Homo sapiens: one gene and its partners. The protein of the gene in region 4 purifies or fractionates together with the protein of the main gene of each other region. This does not show direct contact. Each region holds a gene or a part of one and is shown on either strand. Other genes may lie near its edges.

Region 1 (3,655 bases), on a different chromosome or scaffold from region 4:
GATATACTTTTTTAGACTATGTTAATAAAATGTGCATATAAAGAAGGCCAACAAGTCACGATTAAGGTGAATTCTACCTATGCGTCAGTTCTAGGGATTTGCATCTGTTGTTTTTTGTTGTTGTTGTTTAAGCAATTGAAGCTGTATTTAAGGTAACCTTTTAAATAGCTTTTAGTTTTTGTTTGAGCATGTTTTTCTATTTAAGGACCCTTATGCAGAGATTATCAAAAGAACTACTTTTAGGATATAAACTATTTTACAAGTTTAACAGTTAGGAAATGGCTTCTTTTTTGTTTGTTTGTTTGTTTGTTTGTTTGTTTTTTGAGATGGAGTCTCACTCTGTCGCCCAGGCTGGAGTGCAGTGGTGCGATCTCGGCTCACTGCAAGCTCTGCCTTCCGGGTTCACGCCATTCTCCTGCCTCAGCCTCCCGAGTAGCTGGGACTACAGGTGCCCACCACCACGCCTGGCTAATTTTTTGTATTTTTAGTGGAGACGGGGTTTCACCGTGTTAGCCAGGATGGTCTCGATCTCCTGACCTCGTGATCCGCCTGCCTCGGCCTCCCAAAGTGCTGGGATTACAGGCGTCAGCCACCGCGTCCGGCCCAGGAAATGGCTTCTTAGGAAACCTGTTCTAGTAGTCATAGAGGGGAAAAGACTCAAGAACAGATTAATAGTTTTATGTGCTGCCTCACAGGGTAAACTTTCATATGTCTGATATGACATATGAAATAATAAAAGATATCATCTGAACCTTTTTTTCCACCAACTTTTCCCTGTCTTTCATGCTATAGAACCATCAAATTTTATTTCTGAAAGAGACCTGAGAGATTGTTTATAGTACCTTCCTTTGGTGAATAAAGAACTCACTCAAGAGAGCTTGGATTTGCACCATGGTTGGTGTCATTGTTAGTGGAAGATTCCTGTCCTCCTGCCTCCTACAAAAGCAGCAGTGCTTCCGAAGGCAGCAGCTTATTCCAAGAAATACACTATCGATATTGGACTGTTTCTCTTTTCACTAAAGTTCTTAGAGTTTCACATCCTTTACAGAGACTTGTGTGAAATTGCCTGTTCGCCTTGAAAATAAGAGGATAAGCAGCCAGGCATGGTGGCTCACGCCTGTAATCCCAGCACTTTGGGAGGCCGAGGCAGGCAGATCACGAGGTCAGGAGATCGAGACCACCCTGGTTAACACAGTGAAACCCCGTCTCTACTATAAATACAAAAAATTAGCCAGGTATGGTGGTGGGCACCTGTAGTCCCAGCTACTTGGGACGCTGAGGCAGGAGAATGGCGTGAACCCGGGAGGCGGAGCTTGCAGTGATTCAAGATCGCACCACTGCACTCCAGCGTGGGGGACAGAGCAAGAGTCCGTCTCAAAAAAAAAAAGAAAAGAAAAGAAAAAGAGGATAAGCATTTTCTACCTTGGTGATATCTGCAAAAAATCTATCTGTCTAAAGTCCTCATTTCATTTTCATAGTTGGACAGCAAGTAAGGACACCATCCTGACATTAGTTGAGGATAGTGCTGTAACCTGAAAGGCTCACATTGATTTTCATGTCTGTTTTTTTCCATTTGATCCCTGGTTTGGCGCCGCTGTGTTTTCCAGGTGTGATGATTACTTCTTTATAGCCCATCGTGGAGAACGGCGGGGCATTGGTGGTATCTTTTTTGATGATCTTGACTCTCCGTCCAAGGAGGAGGTGTTTCGCTTTGTACAGAGCTGTGCCAGGGCTGTAGTTCCTTCTTACATTCCCCTTGTGAAAAAGCACTGTGATGACTCATTCACCCCCCAGGAGAAGCTGTGGCAGCAGCTCAGAAGAGGACGGTAAGTGACTGGAAAACGAATTCTTTCATGGCTAAGTGGGGGAGGTGGAGCAGCTCTTAATAATAGCGGGTGTTGTGTTGTCAGATACTTTGTAATAGTTGTGTTAATTTCTTTTCATAGATGAATATTAAGTGAATTAAAAGACATTGTGTAAAGTAATATTATAATTATAGCAAAGTTTATTTAATTCATCTATACATTAGAGACTCATAGTAGGCATGTAGTAAGTACTTCCTGAATTTAATTCTGCTGATTTCTCTTAGTCTTCTTGTAATACCCTCCAGCCTTATGTCAAGATGTAGACTTCATTTAATGTCTTTGCTGCTTTGTAAATTTGGAATCACACCTTTTTTCATTCATCTTAAAGATTTCACGGAAGTTATTTTAATGGAAATAATTTCAGAAATTTTGCTGGCCTCTACATTAGGCATTTTGTATCTGATGTTTTTCAACAAACCTGTAAGATAGGTGTAATCATCTTTTTTCAGAAAGTTAAGTCTGTTGCCCAAGAGACACAGCTGGTAAATTTAAGATCTCAGATGTGGAACTGGGTCAAAATGACCTCAAAACTTATAGTCTGTGTAGTGCCTAAAGTTAAGCAGCTGAAGCAGGTTTGTGCTTCTTACCATGATACTCACTTTAACCACCCTGTTCTGTGCAGTGAGCCTGGTGAGCTCAGTGGGGTGTCCAGTCTGAGGCTGTCTCCAGCCACGGTGTACTTGTAAATCCACTCCAAGTTATACAGCCTGCTGGCCCCAATCAGTTTCTCATTGCCACCTTAAATGCCTGTATACTACTGAAACATGGCTATAAAATGGATTTTCTCATTGACGTTAATTCTGTGTTAGGCAAAAGAAGCTTTGGGTACTAAAGAGGTAAAGCTTTTGCCTTAAAGAGGTCAACTTAAATAATGTTTCCAGTCTAAAGATAAACATTTGTGTATATCCTTTCTTATGACTGCCTGTGCTATCTGGTTCCCATTTATTAACTTGAAAAACATGAGAGTAAATTTTTAGAAATTTCTTAAAGAATGCATGTATTTTGGAACATGTTTTTTGTTTGCTTCCATAATTTCTTAAATATACCTTTACCACTCTTTCCTCCTTTCACTTGATACTTATTTTGGGGCCCCTGTGATGAGGCACTATCTTGGCTACCCGGTGGCTGTAACATGGACCTGCCAAAAAGAACCTCATAGTTTAGTGGGGAAGACATACCCAAGAGGACAATTTAGAACTCTGTGCAAAGTAAAGTATTCTAGTTTTGCACAAGATTTCGAAGGCAAAACTTGGCAGATTTTGTCAATACTAATTAGGTGAATCCTTTAAAACTTCATAGACAGGAGTAATGGTTTGTTTTGCGGTTTTGTTTTGTTTTTTATACATCGTTTGATGGCAGATCATTCTGAAAGTCGTTGTTGTGTATCATTGCATGTCTGGTGTCATGAGATAGGCAGAACTGTGGGGTAGTAGATTAATTTTCTATGGTATGGTGTGTGACTGTTCTTCAAAGACAGCTTCTTTCTGCCTCCCTTATCTCTGGTCCTTAAGATGGCAATAAACTCTGGGGCCTAAGATAACTCCAGTTCTTCTCTGGGGCTATCAACACTGTCTTTGGTTTCTAATACTGCAGTCATGACCAGTTTTCTGTATCCTTTTCACTTACTGTTACCCACTTTGCCTCGTCTTCACCCTGTCCAAACACCGGTCTCCCTTTCAGCAGTCAGTCTCATTCCCTTTTGACTTTACAGTCTCTTATTTGGCAATCTCATCCAGTTTCTTGCCCACAGTTACTGCTATCCTCCCCCAGACCTTGAACATCAGTCTTAC
Region 2 (3,655 bases), on a different chromosome or scaffold from region 4:
TTGTTGTGGGCATGTTTTGTATCTCTGTAATTAGCATGCCACTTTATGTCTTCCCTTTCAGGGAGATAAGAAGCCTTATTTGGAGATTCATAGGGAATCAGGAGCAGGGCAGTATTTCTTGTTTTGAGTACCTATCTTGTAATGGCCCTATGCTAGTCATTGTGGCTTTACCAGACTTGATTTTTTATAAATTGATTTCCTTTTTAAGTATCATTATTTTATTCTTTTAAAATACTAATGGATAGTATATGAAAGTTTCTTCCCCTTCACAGTGGGCACTTTGTCCACACTGTTTAAAGAATGCTCACTTTTGTTGTACTACTTAACTGTCCTTGCATGAGGTTTACATTCAGATAAAAATGATTATTTGGTTTATGGACACACATTTTTGAAAGTGGAAGAGCCAGGAGCTGTAATTTTACATGAAAAAAAGTTAATGGCTGAAGTGCCTTTTAGTTGAAACCATCCATTCCTAAAGTGTTCATATCTAGATTACCATATCTGTTTGGAAGGGGGAAAAAGGGAAGGATTTTACCAGTTGGTGTCAAATAAGCTCATAAATGTACAAAGACAGTTTATCCATAACCCCCCTCCCCACCCCAGGTAAAGGCCAAAGCCCTTTGCTGTTTCCCAAGGGTACATATTTTTTTCTTACAACTTTGCAGAGCTGCCTTTAACTTTGGCCTAACTTCACTTGTATGAATGGTTCCAAGGTGGATATAGGTTGGTGGGTGATATTTTGCCTTGGATTTGAACTTACTGCATACGTGCCCCCAAACCCCTACTCCCAGCTGCCCCTTGTGTATACACATAGACATCTCTTATCAGTTACTGTTAACTATAAACTCAATCCTTTCTAGGGATAGTGTGGGGTAGGATAGTATTTGTCTCAAGATCTCAGTTTGGGTTTCTACCTGAGATCTAATGTCCTCCTACCACTGACTCACTGAGTGACCTTCAGCAAGTCCTTTTGCCTTATTTGAGCTTCAGTTTCCTTACTGATAGCCTAAAGGAGTTGAACCTAGTGGCTTTCAAACTTTTTGAGGATCTCAGAACTGTTTGAAAACCTGATGGAAGCCATGAATCTTCTCCTCTAGGGAATGCCCACAATTACAGTATTTACAGTATTTCAAGGTATTTACAGATCCCCTGGAGCTTGTCCATGAACCCTTAGTAATCTTACTCAGCTATATCGTAATCTTTGGACTAGACCAGGTGTCACCAAAGTATGTATGGCCTGTGGGCCACATTCAGCCCACAGCCTGTTTTTGACTGGCTTGTGAACTAAGGATGATTTTTAAATTTTTAAAGGGTTGTTAAAAACAACAACAAAAAAACCCAGCAACGAACATGTAACAGAGACCATATGAGGCCCACAAACCTGAAGAATATAGTATTTATTCTTTACAGAAAGTTTGTCAACCCCTGACCTAGATCATTGCTAAGGTCCTTTGTAGTAATGACTTCATGAATCTGTAGCCCTGTCTAGTGGATAATTGCTAGTACTTGGTTTTCTTTTTAGGCCCAGTCATTTTTTCTATCAAGATTTTTGGATTTCAGAATTTGCATGGTTGGTTTAAATTACTGCTTTTGTTACAAGGTGTCTTTCTTTTGATCACAAATTAGGTAATAATTCTCATAGGAAATAAAGCAGATTTGGAGGCACAGAGAGATGTTACATATGAAGAAGCCAAACAGTTTGCTGAAGAAAATGGTGAGTTTCTTTAAGACTTAATGGTCACAATTGGGAGAATTTTTAAGGAAAGGTGGGCTTGACAGTTTTGTTGGTTTTTTTTTGCATTTTTTTTTTAAATGCAGACTCAGAAATCTCAAGAATGAGGAAGTAACAATGTGTTTCTATTTCTGTGTGATTTATGTTGGAGCAGTACAGTTATTTAGTGACAAATATAAAGATGCTCTCCACCTCAAACTTACATACTTTTTCATAAAATACTATGGGAGGAGTACTAAAAACTGATGGGAAACTTTTTCAGATGTTACTAAAGAAGTGCACTTGTGAGTTAGTTTGAAGTGTCCTAATTATAGTCTGAATTTTATTTTTAGGCTTATTGTTCCTCGAAGCGAGTGCAAAAACGTAAGTGTGACCAAAATACAGATATTTCAATTATATTCAAGTTTCTCAAAGTAGAACCGTATATATGAAAAGTATATAATGTATATACACATATAAAGTACTATCTATAAATGTGTAATGCTTACTGCAGGAAGAACAGCAAACATCTCTTTGCTTCCTTTTTTACATTTCAAAATAATATGAATTTTTGTTACTTAAAAGATTGTACCTTGATTATGCCTGTTGGTAACCCAGGTTAATAAATGAAACTTTGTTTACATTTCAAAAGTGTTTGACTTTTCCCAAATGACAGTGTTTGACTTTTCACAAGTGAGGTTGAGTTTGGCATCTCAGACAAGCTTGGTCAATCTGTTCTTCCTGTAATACTTCTGATCACATTAAAAAGCATGATTTAAGGGAATAGTGTCTACTCAGAAGCATAGTGAACATTTTCTAATTGTTCTTCCATGTCTGCTATTGAACTGTGGTACACCCATCATTGTTCTTCATTTATTAGGCCAAAAATTTCTTGTGGTGAGGAGAGGCTAACCTGTTTTCGTTTAGTCTCAGCTGTGCTATTAGTCCAAAGAAAACTGAATGGAGGTGTTAACGTGGCTAAGCATGATTATGTCACCATTACCCGATTAAAAACAGCTCAGTTCATGCTTGGCTGAGCAGACCATATTATTCTTGGAATTTTTTTCAGCATGTTCAGAGAGATTTCATTTCTGTTTGGAGTATCCTCTCTGTTATCACAGAAATGACCTATCTGAATTGTCATGGTGTGTATTAACATACAGTATTTTAATGATTGCATATAACACATGTAGTTGTCCAAATAGGGTTTGTAGAAAGGGCTTTCAGTACACGTATGTATGTATGCTTTCCATAGAAAGTAGTTTTCCGGCCGGGTGTGGTGGCTCATACCTGTAATCCCAGCACTTTGGGAAGCCAAGGCAGGCGGATCACGAGGTCAGGAGATCGAGACCACCCTGGCCAACATGGTGAAACCCTGTCTTTACTAAAAATACAAAAATTAGCTGGGCGTGGTGGTGTGCTCCTGTAGTCCCAGCTACTCGGGAGGCTGAAGCAGGAGAATCGCTTGAACTTGGGAGGTGGAGGTTGCAGTGAGCTGAGATCGGGCCACTGCACTCCAGCCTGGTGACAGAGTGAGTCTCTGTCTCAAAAAAAAAAAAAAAAAAAAAAGGAAAATAGTTTTCCATGTTCTCTTAGCTCAGTGTTCTGGTAATCTCTTATTAGATGACAGTGGTTAAGTTGGAGACATCATGGCAGTTAACTAAAGATTAGCAAAAGGTCAGTGTCTTGTCTTTTGTAGAAAACTGTGGTTCTCCAATAAAGTTATCAATTGCCTCTTAGGGGAGAGAATGTAGAAGATGCCTTCCTTGAGGCTGCCAAGAAAATCTATCAGAACATTCAGGATGGAAGCTTGGATCTGAATGCTGCTGAGTCTGGTGTACAACACAAACCTTCAGCCCCGCAGGGAGGCCGGCTAACCAGTGAACCCCAACCCCAGAGAGAAGGCTGTGGCTGCTAGTGACCTCTTTGCTGTGGCCCCTCATT
Region 3 (3,655 bases), on a different chromosome or scaffold from region 4:
CTGTGGTTTTGATGAGGTTCAGATTTCATAAAGCAGCACAAAACATTGTGCGGTGGGTTTTTTTCTTTTCCCATTTTCCTGGTTAATTTTCTTCACCACTGCCAAGAGTAATTTAATCAGATAGGCCTCTAGAGGACCCTGCTCTTAAAGCATAAAGTCAGGCACTGCATATCTCTCTTCCTTTTTATATTTAATTTGACCATTTGCCATGCCCACTATTTGAGTGGGTGTGGACGGGGAGGTTGGGAATAAGGAAGAGATGGAAGAGGAGACTAATAGAAGATGTGCTTTTCATTCAGATTTGTTTCTCTTTTCCTTCATTCATTCCAGAAACTTTTATTAACTCTACTGTGTGCAAGATACTGTACCAGGCTAGCTGGGAAGACAAAACACCTTAGGCATGCCCTTACCCTCCTGGGGTCCTTGCACTGTCTGGGGAGGCAGGATTCTGGTTGTCTAATGTCTAATGTGGTAAGCGCTGTGAATGTATGCAGTGTTATGGGAAGGGAGGATTTGTCTGGGGAAGGGGCAGGGAGGGCATCCTTTGGTCTAAAGGGGAAGTTGGAATGAATTATTCAAGTGGAGAGGCCAGGGTAGTAGTGTTAGAGGCAAATGAAAGAGCATGCTTGACCAGAGAGGATAGAGCCTGTGTGCTTAGAGCTGTCAGCGTTTTGGCCATTGTGCCAAGATCAGTGGAAAGACATTGCAGATTTTAAAAATCAATGAAATATTTTATACATTATAAAATACATGTAAGATGTAAAAATGGTATATTGAACACACATATTCACCATCTAGCTTAAGAAATGAAACATTACCTATACCATTAGCGTCCCCTGCTTACCCTTTCTAGTCTTATCGTTCTTCTCTCTGCTTTTTTTTCTTCCTCGCTTCTTCCCAGGAGTAACCACTAGCCTGAATTTTCTATTTATATATTTTTTGCTTTTCTTTCTATTTTTACTACATATGTATGCATCCCTAAGTCATGCATAGTTTTGCATGATTTTGACCTTTGGGTAGTAAGAATCAGCATGGATGAATCTCACATAATGTTGAGCGAAGATGCTAAGTTGGAGCTACATATAGTGTGAAACCACTGAAAGGCTTTGCACAGGGGAGTGACATTTAATTTGTATTTTCTAAAGATTACTTTTTATGCAGTGTGGATAATGGATTGGAGGTAAACAAAAATGGATGGGGAGAGCAGTTAGAAGGATGTTATAATCTAAGTGGTAACTTATGGTTGATGGTTGTAACCTCTTAAGAGAAATCATAGACAAATTCTTAGCCATAGCCCTTTAGGATCTTATCCCTCCCAGCTATTCAACCTTGCTCTTCCCTGAATCTGGCAAGCTTGTTCCCTGTTAAGGTCTTTCCCTGTTCTCTGTAACCTGAGCCTTTCATCTCGGGTCTGCAGAGTTCAGTCTTTAACTGCACTCAAGTCTCTGCACAGAGAGGTCTTTCCTGGCCATTTTGTTGAGAAGTGACCCCCTGCCCTTGTCATTATTTTCTGTTCTCCTTACTCTGCTTTTTCTTTGTAGTTTTTAAAAAAATTGCAACTTGAAATTATACATTTATTTATAGCATGTTTGCTGCTGCTAAAATATAAGATCCATGGGGGCTGGTCTTATCTAAAATTGTAACCTCCTTTCCCCCCGTGCCTAGTACATAGTAGGTGCTCAATAAATATTTGTTGAATAGATGAGTGAATTGATTGAAGTTGGGATAATGGAATTCATTCTTCCCTTTTCAGCTGTTTCTCAAACATCTCTCTGGCTGTGAACTTTTTTCAGAGCTTGAGGTTAATGCCCAAACCCTGTCTTGCTGTCACCTCAAACTCAGTATATATAAAATTACATTATTTTCCTTCCTCCAGTCTTTCACTTTTGTTAATGCTGCCATCACTGACAGTCCTCAGGCACAAAACCTTGGTGTTATCTTGCAGTGTTCACTACCCCCGATCCCTAGGGTGCTGTATATTCCCATTTATGTGTTTGAGGAAGTTTTCTGGTTACTGTTTCACCTCTGCTTTTTGCCTATTGACATTTTAGCCAGCCCTCAGGGCCCTGCCTCAGTCTTTCTCTTCTGAGCACGAAGCTGAATTTCCATCCAAGCACCCCTTTTGTACTTATGTTTATAGTTTGTTTTGTTTTGTTTTTGAGACAAGGTCTTTCTCTGCTACCCAGGCTGGAATGCAGTGGCGTGATCACTGCTCACTGCTGTCTTGACCTTGACCTTGTGGGCTCAAGCCATCCTCCCACCCCAGCCTCCTGGGTAGCTGGGACTACTGTTATAGGTCACCACACCTGGCTAATTTTTAAAATTTTTTATAGAGACGGGGGTCTCGCCATATTTTCCAGGCTGGTCTCGAACTCGTGGCCTCAAGCGGTCCTCCTGCCTCGGCCTCCCAAAGTGCTGGGATTACAGGCATGAGCCACCGTGCCTGGTGTAATTACTCTTTTTTTAAATTAAAAAAAAAAACCCACACAGTCTCCTGATCTGTTAGTTCCTTTCCCATGTCCTAATATTTTAAACATAGTATTGAGTTGCCTTTCTTTTCTTTTTCTTTTTTTTTTTTTTGAGACAGGTTCTCACTCTGTCACCCAGCTTAAAGTGCAGTGGCACAATCTTGGCTCACTACAACCTCCACCTCCTGGGAGCGATTCTCCTGCCTCAGCCTCCTGAGTAGCTGAGACTGCAGGTGCCTGCCATCACACCTGGCTAAATTTTATATGTTTAGTAGAGACGGGGTTTCACCATGTTGGCCAGGCTGGTCTTGAACTCCTGGCCTCAAGTGACCTGCCCGCCTTGGCCTCCCAAAGTGCTGGGATTACAGGCGTGAGCCACCACACTCAGCCTATTTCCTTCTTTATGATCCCATTTTTAACTTCACCACCATGTGTGTCCTATCTTTAGCTCTGTCATAGAGACCTAATGCTTGCTACTTGGTTGTGCAACAGAAGACAGCTGACAGCAACAATGCCATCAGCATGGTTTTCTTACCTTCTATCTTTGATGTTGATTCAGGCTGGATTCTCTTGAGCCGGTGGAGGCTCCTGCAGTTTTAGAAGGTGAGTAGTCATAAGGTGTCACCTGCTGCATCACACTGGAAATGTGTGGAGGCAGTGGAGTCTGAGCTGATGATGAGTATTTACTTAGTAGTTCTCTGTACCTACCTAGCAGTGATTCAGGTTGTAAAGAAAAATTTAATTGGTTAAATTATTTTAACCAATGTTTGAGTGCCTATTTTACTGTGATGAACATAGATGTACAAGATGTTTTGCTCATTAGGAGTCTCCAAAATCTAGCAGGTATGTGAGTTATGTAACATTCTTTTTAGTAAATAAAATATGGTAAATGCTGAGTTAGAAGTAGGTGTGAGCTGCTGTTGAAGGCAGCATATGACTCATTGAAGGACTTATCAGGGGAGGCTTATTTCGTAAGGGATGTAATGGGGCACGTCTTGATGGATAAATGGAAATTCACAAGTGGAGAGGGGCTTTAAGATCTGTGTATAGGTAATTCATGAAAACACAGTGGAATCAATCTAGGCCCAAATGTAGCTCCAGTAAAGGGTGAAACCAGCAGGGGTAGAGCTTTAGTTCCTTGATATCATGGCTTAAGGTAGCCAAGAAGTTCTGATTCAACAGTGCCC
Region 4 (5,556 bases):
GCCTGTAATCCCAGCACTTTGGGAGGCTGAGGTGGGTGGATCATTTGAGGTGTGGAGTTTGAGACCAGCTGGGCCAACATGGTGGAACCCCGTCTCTACTAAAAACACAAAAGTTAGCCGGACGGTAGTGGTTTGCACCTGTAATCCCAGCTACTCAGGAGGCTGAGGCAGGAGAATCGCTTGAGCCTGGGAGGCAGAGGTTGCTGAAATCGTGCCATTGCACTCCAGTCTAGGCGACAGAGTGACACTCTGTCTCAAAAAAAAAAAAAAAAAAAAAAACCACAAAGTGCTAGCTATAACTAGCTCTAAAAAGCAGAGCTTATTTTCTCATTCCTTCATAGAGCACAATTTGATCCAGATGGTTCATGCTGTAGATTCTGCCATTGTAGCATTCAGCAAGACTTAATATACAACATGTACTTAGATTTGTTTGTTTCTTTTTTTTTTTATATTTCTATGTTTCTATATTTTAATGTTTTTTAATATGCATAGGGTTTTTGGTTTTCTGGACTTTTTTTGTACCCCCTTATTTTTGGCATGTCAGTGGAATAGCAGACTAACTCCTACAGTTTTTGTTAATTTTCTTTGAGATGGGGTCTTGCTCTGTCATCCAGGCTGGAGTGCAGTGGTGTGATCTCAGCTCACTGCAGTGTCTGCCTCCTGGGTTCAAGAGATTCTCCTGCCTCAGCCTCCTCAGTAGCTGGGACTACAGATGTGTGCCACCACGCCTGGCTAGTTTTTGTTATTTTTAATAACAAGGGCAACTGGAAGTTGACTTTGAAGTACCTACTGAATATGCTAATGTCTTGCTAAACACTGTGAGGGCAGTAATGGAGAAGGCAGCTCTATCTTCAAAGAACTTAAAATTGTTAGGGATTTAGGAACAATCCATATGAAAATTATTAGATAGAAGAGAATAGTAGATGAGTTTTTTTCATCTGCTATCTTGAGCTATTTTTCCTAATGGGAGAGTATCATTCCTCAAGGAGATTATGGTTAAAAAAATAAACATTGAGAACCATTGCAGTAAATGACAAAGTAGCTAACTGAGTTGTAAACTGTTTTGGAATTTAGTGTAGTATTTTCAAAACTTTGGATTGTAACTCACAGTAAAAAACAAAACATTTTACAGACATGTGTATATATGTGGATACACATAAAATGATACAAAAGTTTACGAAATAATGTCTTTGAAAGCATCCATTTGCACTCTAATCTTTCTTTTATTCCAGATTCTTTCCCTATCCCTGCCTCCCTCCCTCCCTTCCTTCCTCCCTTTCTTCCTCCCTCCCTTCCTTCCCTCCCTCCTTGCTTCCTTCCTTCCTTTCTCCCTCCCTTCTTTCCTGCCCTCCTCCCTCCCTCCCCTCCCTCTCCCCCTCCCTCCGTCCCTTCCTCCTTCCTTCCTTCCTTCCTTCCTATTCCATTCACAGCCTGCTAATATTATTTTACAACTCTGTGGATACCGTGCTGTTCACCGGGATTGCAGTGATGAGTAGGCAGACATGGTTCCAGCTTCCAAAGATCCTACAATCAATTGAGAAAGATAGACAAATAAAGAAGTAATATGATAAAATATGATAAATACTCTGATAGGTAAAGTATAGGCAGTAGAGGCCATTCATTCAGTTATTCATAAAGCATTTATTCAGCACCTCTTTGTGCTAGGAACCGTTGTAGGCATTAGAGATTCTGCAGTGAACAAAGCTAAATTACATTTCTCATTGAGTTGACTTCTTGGTGTGGGTGGGAGTGGTAAGTGTATATAAGAAATAAGAAGTAAACATAATAATCAGTTAATTTCAGATACTGATTAATGAGATGATAGTAAAACAGGATCATGTGATAAAGATGAATGAGAAAATAACCTTGGATTGGGTAGCCAGGAAAGGCTTCTCTGAGAAGCCAACATTTGAGCTGAACCCTAAATAGTATTAAGAGCTAGTAATGTGAGATCTGTGGCCTGAACATTCTCGGCAGAGGGAATTAGAAAGTTTGTATCCTGTGGAAAAGGCACGCATCCTTGGTCTTACAGGATTAGGGAAGTCTTCCTGAAGAGAGAAGAATGAAAGACAGTTTATAGCCAAGAGGAAATCACACTAGTATGCTAGAGGATTTTTTAATTTTATTTTTTATTTTTTGAGACGGAGTCTTGCTCTGTTGCCCAGGCTGGAGTGCAGTGGTGTGATCTTGGCTTACTGCAACCTCTGCTTCCCAGGTTCAGGCAATTCTGCCTCAGCCTCCCGAGTAGCTGGGATTACAGCATACCCAGCTAATTTTTTTTTTTTTTTTTTTGTATTTTTAGTAGAGATGGGGTTTCACCATATTGGCTAGACTGGTCTCGAACTCCTGACCTCAGGTGATCCGCCTGCTTTGGCCTCCCAAAGTGCTAGGAATACAGGCTGAGCCACCATGCCCTGCTGGCTAGAGGATTTTAAAAGAGGAAAAGGTCAGTGTGAGTTAAAAGTGGTTGAGGCAGGTTTTATGGAGGTGTGAGATTTGGAGGGTGAGTAGGAGTTAGATGTATGGAAAGGTGGAAGAGGAACCTTTAGGCAGAGTAAGGTATAAGCAATGATGTGGATATGGGAATGGGAAGCCCTCTTGGGACTTATATTTCACAGGGAACAGTTGAAGAGATCTGGGGCCAAACTAAGAAAGGCTTTGCTTGAGAGAAGAGGATAATGTAGGCAGTGAGAAGCAGGGATTAGTGATGTGATAAAATCAACATCTGGCTTGAAAAACTAACCAAGTGGAATGACAGAATAGAGAACTGTGTGTCATTGGACCTTTAGATCTTTAGTCTGCCTCCTATTTTCAAGTGTGAGTTAAGATAATTACCAATGCACTTTTTTTTTTTTGTCAGTTTCCTGATTGACTTCAGAACTTCTGGCAGTTGTAGAATTTTCTTTTTGCTAAGTTGCTTTCCCCCCCCACTGCATGTATAATTGCAGAACGCTAATGTTGCTTTGCAGTTACCTGCCTGCTTAGTTATCCAATTGCTAGAGCACTGAGGTTTCAGTCCCAGTGCCAGCCAGTTAATTTACCCCATTTCAGAGTTAAATGCTGCAGATGTGAGCCTGATGAGAAAATTATCACAATGGTGATCAGAAAGAGAGGGGCTAACATATCAGTGTAGAAGAAAAAGCAACTTGTTCTAGTGATAATGGGTTAATAGTGATGTCTTATTGTTCATTTATTCTTCATCAAATGTTTGAGAACTTGCCTTGTTCTAGGCACTAAATTTGAGAATACAGATGTGAATCAGAGGGCCAAATAAATGTAAACATATTTAGCATGTTTCTTATTGGTTACTTCAGGTTGAGTATCCCTTATTCAAAATGCTTGGGCCCAGAAGTGTTTCGGATTTTGGATTTGTTTCAGATTTTGGAATATTCGCATTATACTTACTGGTTGGGCATCCCTAATCAGAAAATCCAAAATCTGAAATGGTCCAAGGAACATTTTCTTTGAACATTGTGTTGGCATTGAAAAAGTTTTGGATTTTGGAGTGTTTTGGATTTTGGAATTTTGGATTAAGGATACTCAGCCTATAGTTACAATGGATTGTAGGTGCACAAAAGAGACAAAAACTAAATCAGTGTGAGACACTAACATTTATTGAGTGCCTATTGTGTATCACATACTGTGATTTTTTTTTCCCCCATAGGAGCAGCTTTATTTTATAACGAGGTATAGTTGTAACTATGCCAAAGTTGTTACAACAAAAGCACTTTTTACCTTATCTAATTTTATTGTCACAGTAAACTGATTAGGCAAGTAAAATAGATATAATAATTAACCCCTTTCTACAAATGAAGATCTGTGAAATGACTGATTGTGTTTTGTGGCTTGTCTAAGGTTAAGGCTGTTTGGTGGTTGGATATATTCACTATTCCTGGTAAGAATAAATAAAGGTCGGATGAGCTACTATTTGAGGTTAAACTAAGAGTAGTAAGACTTTTTTGTCTAGAAGGACAAAGATATAATCTAAGTCCAAAATCATGAAAAATATTAGGTAAAATATATAGTATGTCAGATGGGGTAAGTGCAATGGAGAAAAAGCACAGAAGGGGAAGGGGGATAAGAAGAGCAAGGGTCCTATTTGGGGCATTGCAATTTAAAATGGAATCATCAGGGAAAGCCACATTGAGAAGGTGATGACATTGAGCAAAAGACCTAAAGGAGATATATAGCAAGAAGGCCAAGTTGTCAAGGTACAATAGGAAGGAAGGTGGGAGAGTTGGAGGTGAAATTGGGAAGTGGGTGCACAGGACAAGTGGTATAGGATTCTGTGGATTTTTTTTTTTTTTTAGTTGGAGTTTCATTCTTGTTGTCCAGGCTGGAATGCAATGGCGTGATCTCAGCTCACTGCAACCTCCGCCTCCTGGGTTCAAACAATTCTCCTGCCTTAGCCTCCCGAATAGCTGGGATTATAGGCCCCTGCCACCATGCCCAGCTAATTTTTTGTATTTTTAGTAGAGACGGGGTTTCACCATATTGATCAGGCTGATCTCGAACTCCTGACCTCCAGTGATCCACACCCCCCCCCGCTCCCTTGGCCTCCCAAAGTGCTGGGATTACAGGTGTGAGCCACTAGGCCTGGCCTGTGGATTGTTATAACAATTTTGACTTTTATTCTGGAGATCATAAGCCACTATTAGGAGTTTTGAAGGAGGTAATGATATGATTCTGAGTTTAACTTTTAAAGGGTAATTTTGGCTGCCATGTGGGATGGGGGAAAAATTTAGGAAATTATCCGTAAACGTCTGTCTGTATAGAATTCATACTCTTTGAAGGTGACATCAGAGAAGACAATCTCTTCATGAATCTTTTGAGGGGGCCTCAATCTTTTCTGTGAAATAGCACTTCATGTTGGTCAATTTACATGTTAATTACATTTGATTCTTTGACATTGTAGTCTTAATAATTGCTAACATGAATTTAATAATTGCTAACATGATTTGATTCTTTAGATGGCCGCCAAGAACGAGTCATGTTTGACAAAATTACATCTCGAATCCAGAAGCTTTGTTATGGACTCAATATGGATTTTGTTGATCCTGTAAGTAAATATGGTTTTTATCTTGGGTTCCTTCTTTCATGTGTTTCTTTCCATTTGTCTCTTATCCCTGGACCTTCATTCACCTGATATACTTTGGTATTCTGGCTATGCCCTTCGATATAAAATTTGAATTCATTGCTTAAAACATTTTTTTTTCCTTAATTTTGGTTCTGTCCTGTGAGTTCTCACTTTTCAGAGAACTATGAATGTGAGTAAAGAGGAAAATTTGATATTAACATTTAATATCAGATATTTCCTTGAGTAAATTGTTTTATTCATTAGTGGAAAAGCCTAGGCCAGGCGCCGTGGCTCACGCCTGTAATCCCAGCACTTTGGGAGGCTGAGGTGGGCAGATCACCTGAGGTCAGGAGTTCAAGACCAGCCTGGCCAACATGGTGAAACCCCGTCTCTACTAAAAATGCAAAAATTAGCCGGGCCTGGTGGTGGGCGCCTGTAATCCCAGCTACTTGGGAGGCAGGAGAATCACTTGAACCTGG

What was found. The genes of interacting proteins can lie anywhere in the genome.
Region 1: the proteins of RRM1 (region 4) and CPOX fractionate together in Homo sapiens (co-fractionation; one large-scale study listed by BioGRID). This does not show direct contact.
Region 2: the proteins of RRM1 (region 4) and RAB14 fractionate together in Homo sapiens (co-fractionation; one large-scale study listed by BioGRID). This does not show direct contact.
Region 3: the proteins of RRM1 (region 4) and PEX7 purify together in Homo sapiens (co-immunoprecipitation; one large-scale study listed by IntAct). This does not show direct contact.

The regions. Positions count from the first base shown.
Region 1 is NC_000003.12:98,583,612-98,587,266, reverse strand, and holds part of CPOX (oxygen-dependent coproporphyrinogen-III oxidase, mitochondrial precursor), read left to right. Parts: intron 1-1,048; coding exon of another isoform or gene 1,049-1,049; exon of another isoform or gene 1,050-1,601; intron 1,602-1,607; coding exon 1,608-1,826; intron 1,827-3,655. UniProt on the Homo sapiens protein: Catalyzes the aerobic oxidative decarboxylation of propionate groups of rings A and B of coproporphyrinogen-III to yield the vinyl groups in protoporphyrinogen-IX and participates to the sixth step in the heme biosynthetic pathway.
Region 2 is NC_000009.12:121,181,370-121,185,024, reverse strand, and holds part of RAB14 (ras-related protein Rab-14), read left to right. Parts: intron 1-1,626; coding exon 1,627-1,714; intron 1,715-2,064; coding exon 2,065-2,095; intron 2,096-3,451; coding exon 3,452-3,629; 3' UTR 3,630-3,655.
Region 3 is NC_000006.12:136,839,437-136,843,091, forward strand, and holds part of PEX7 (peroxisomal biogenesis factor 7), read left to right. Parts: intron 1-3,655. UniProt on the Homo sapiens protein: Receptor required for the peroxisomal import of proteins containing a C-terminal PTS2-type peroxisomal targeting signal. Specifically binds to cargo proteins containing a PTS2 peroxisomal targeting signal in the cytosol.
Region 4 is NC_000011.10:4,097,023-4,102,578, forward strand, and holds part of RRM1 (ribonucleoside-diphosphate reductase large subunit), read left to right. Parts: intron 1-4,970; coding exon 4,971-5,059; intron 5,060-5,556. UniProt on the Homo sapiens protein: Provides the precursors necessary for DNA synthesis. Catalyzes the biosynthesis of deoxyribonucleotides from the corresponding ribonucleotides.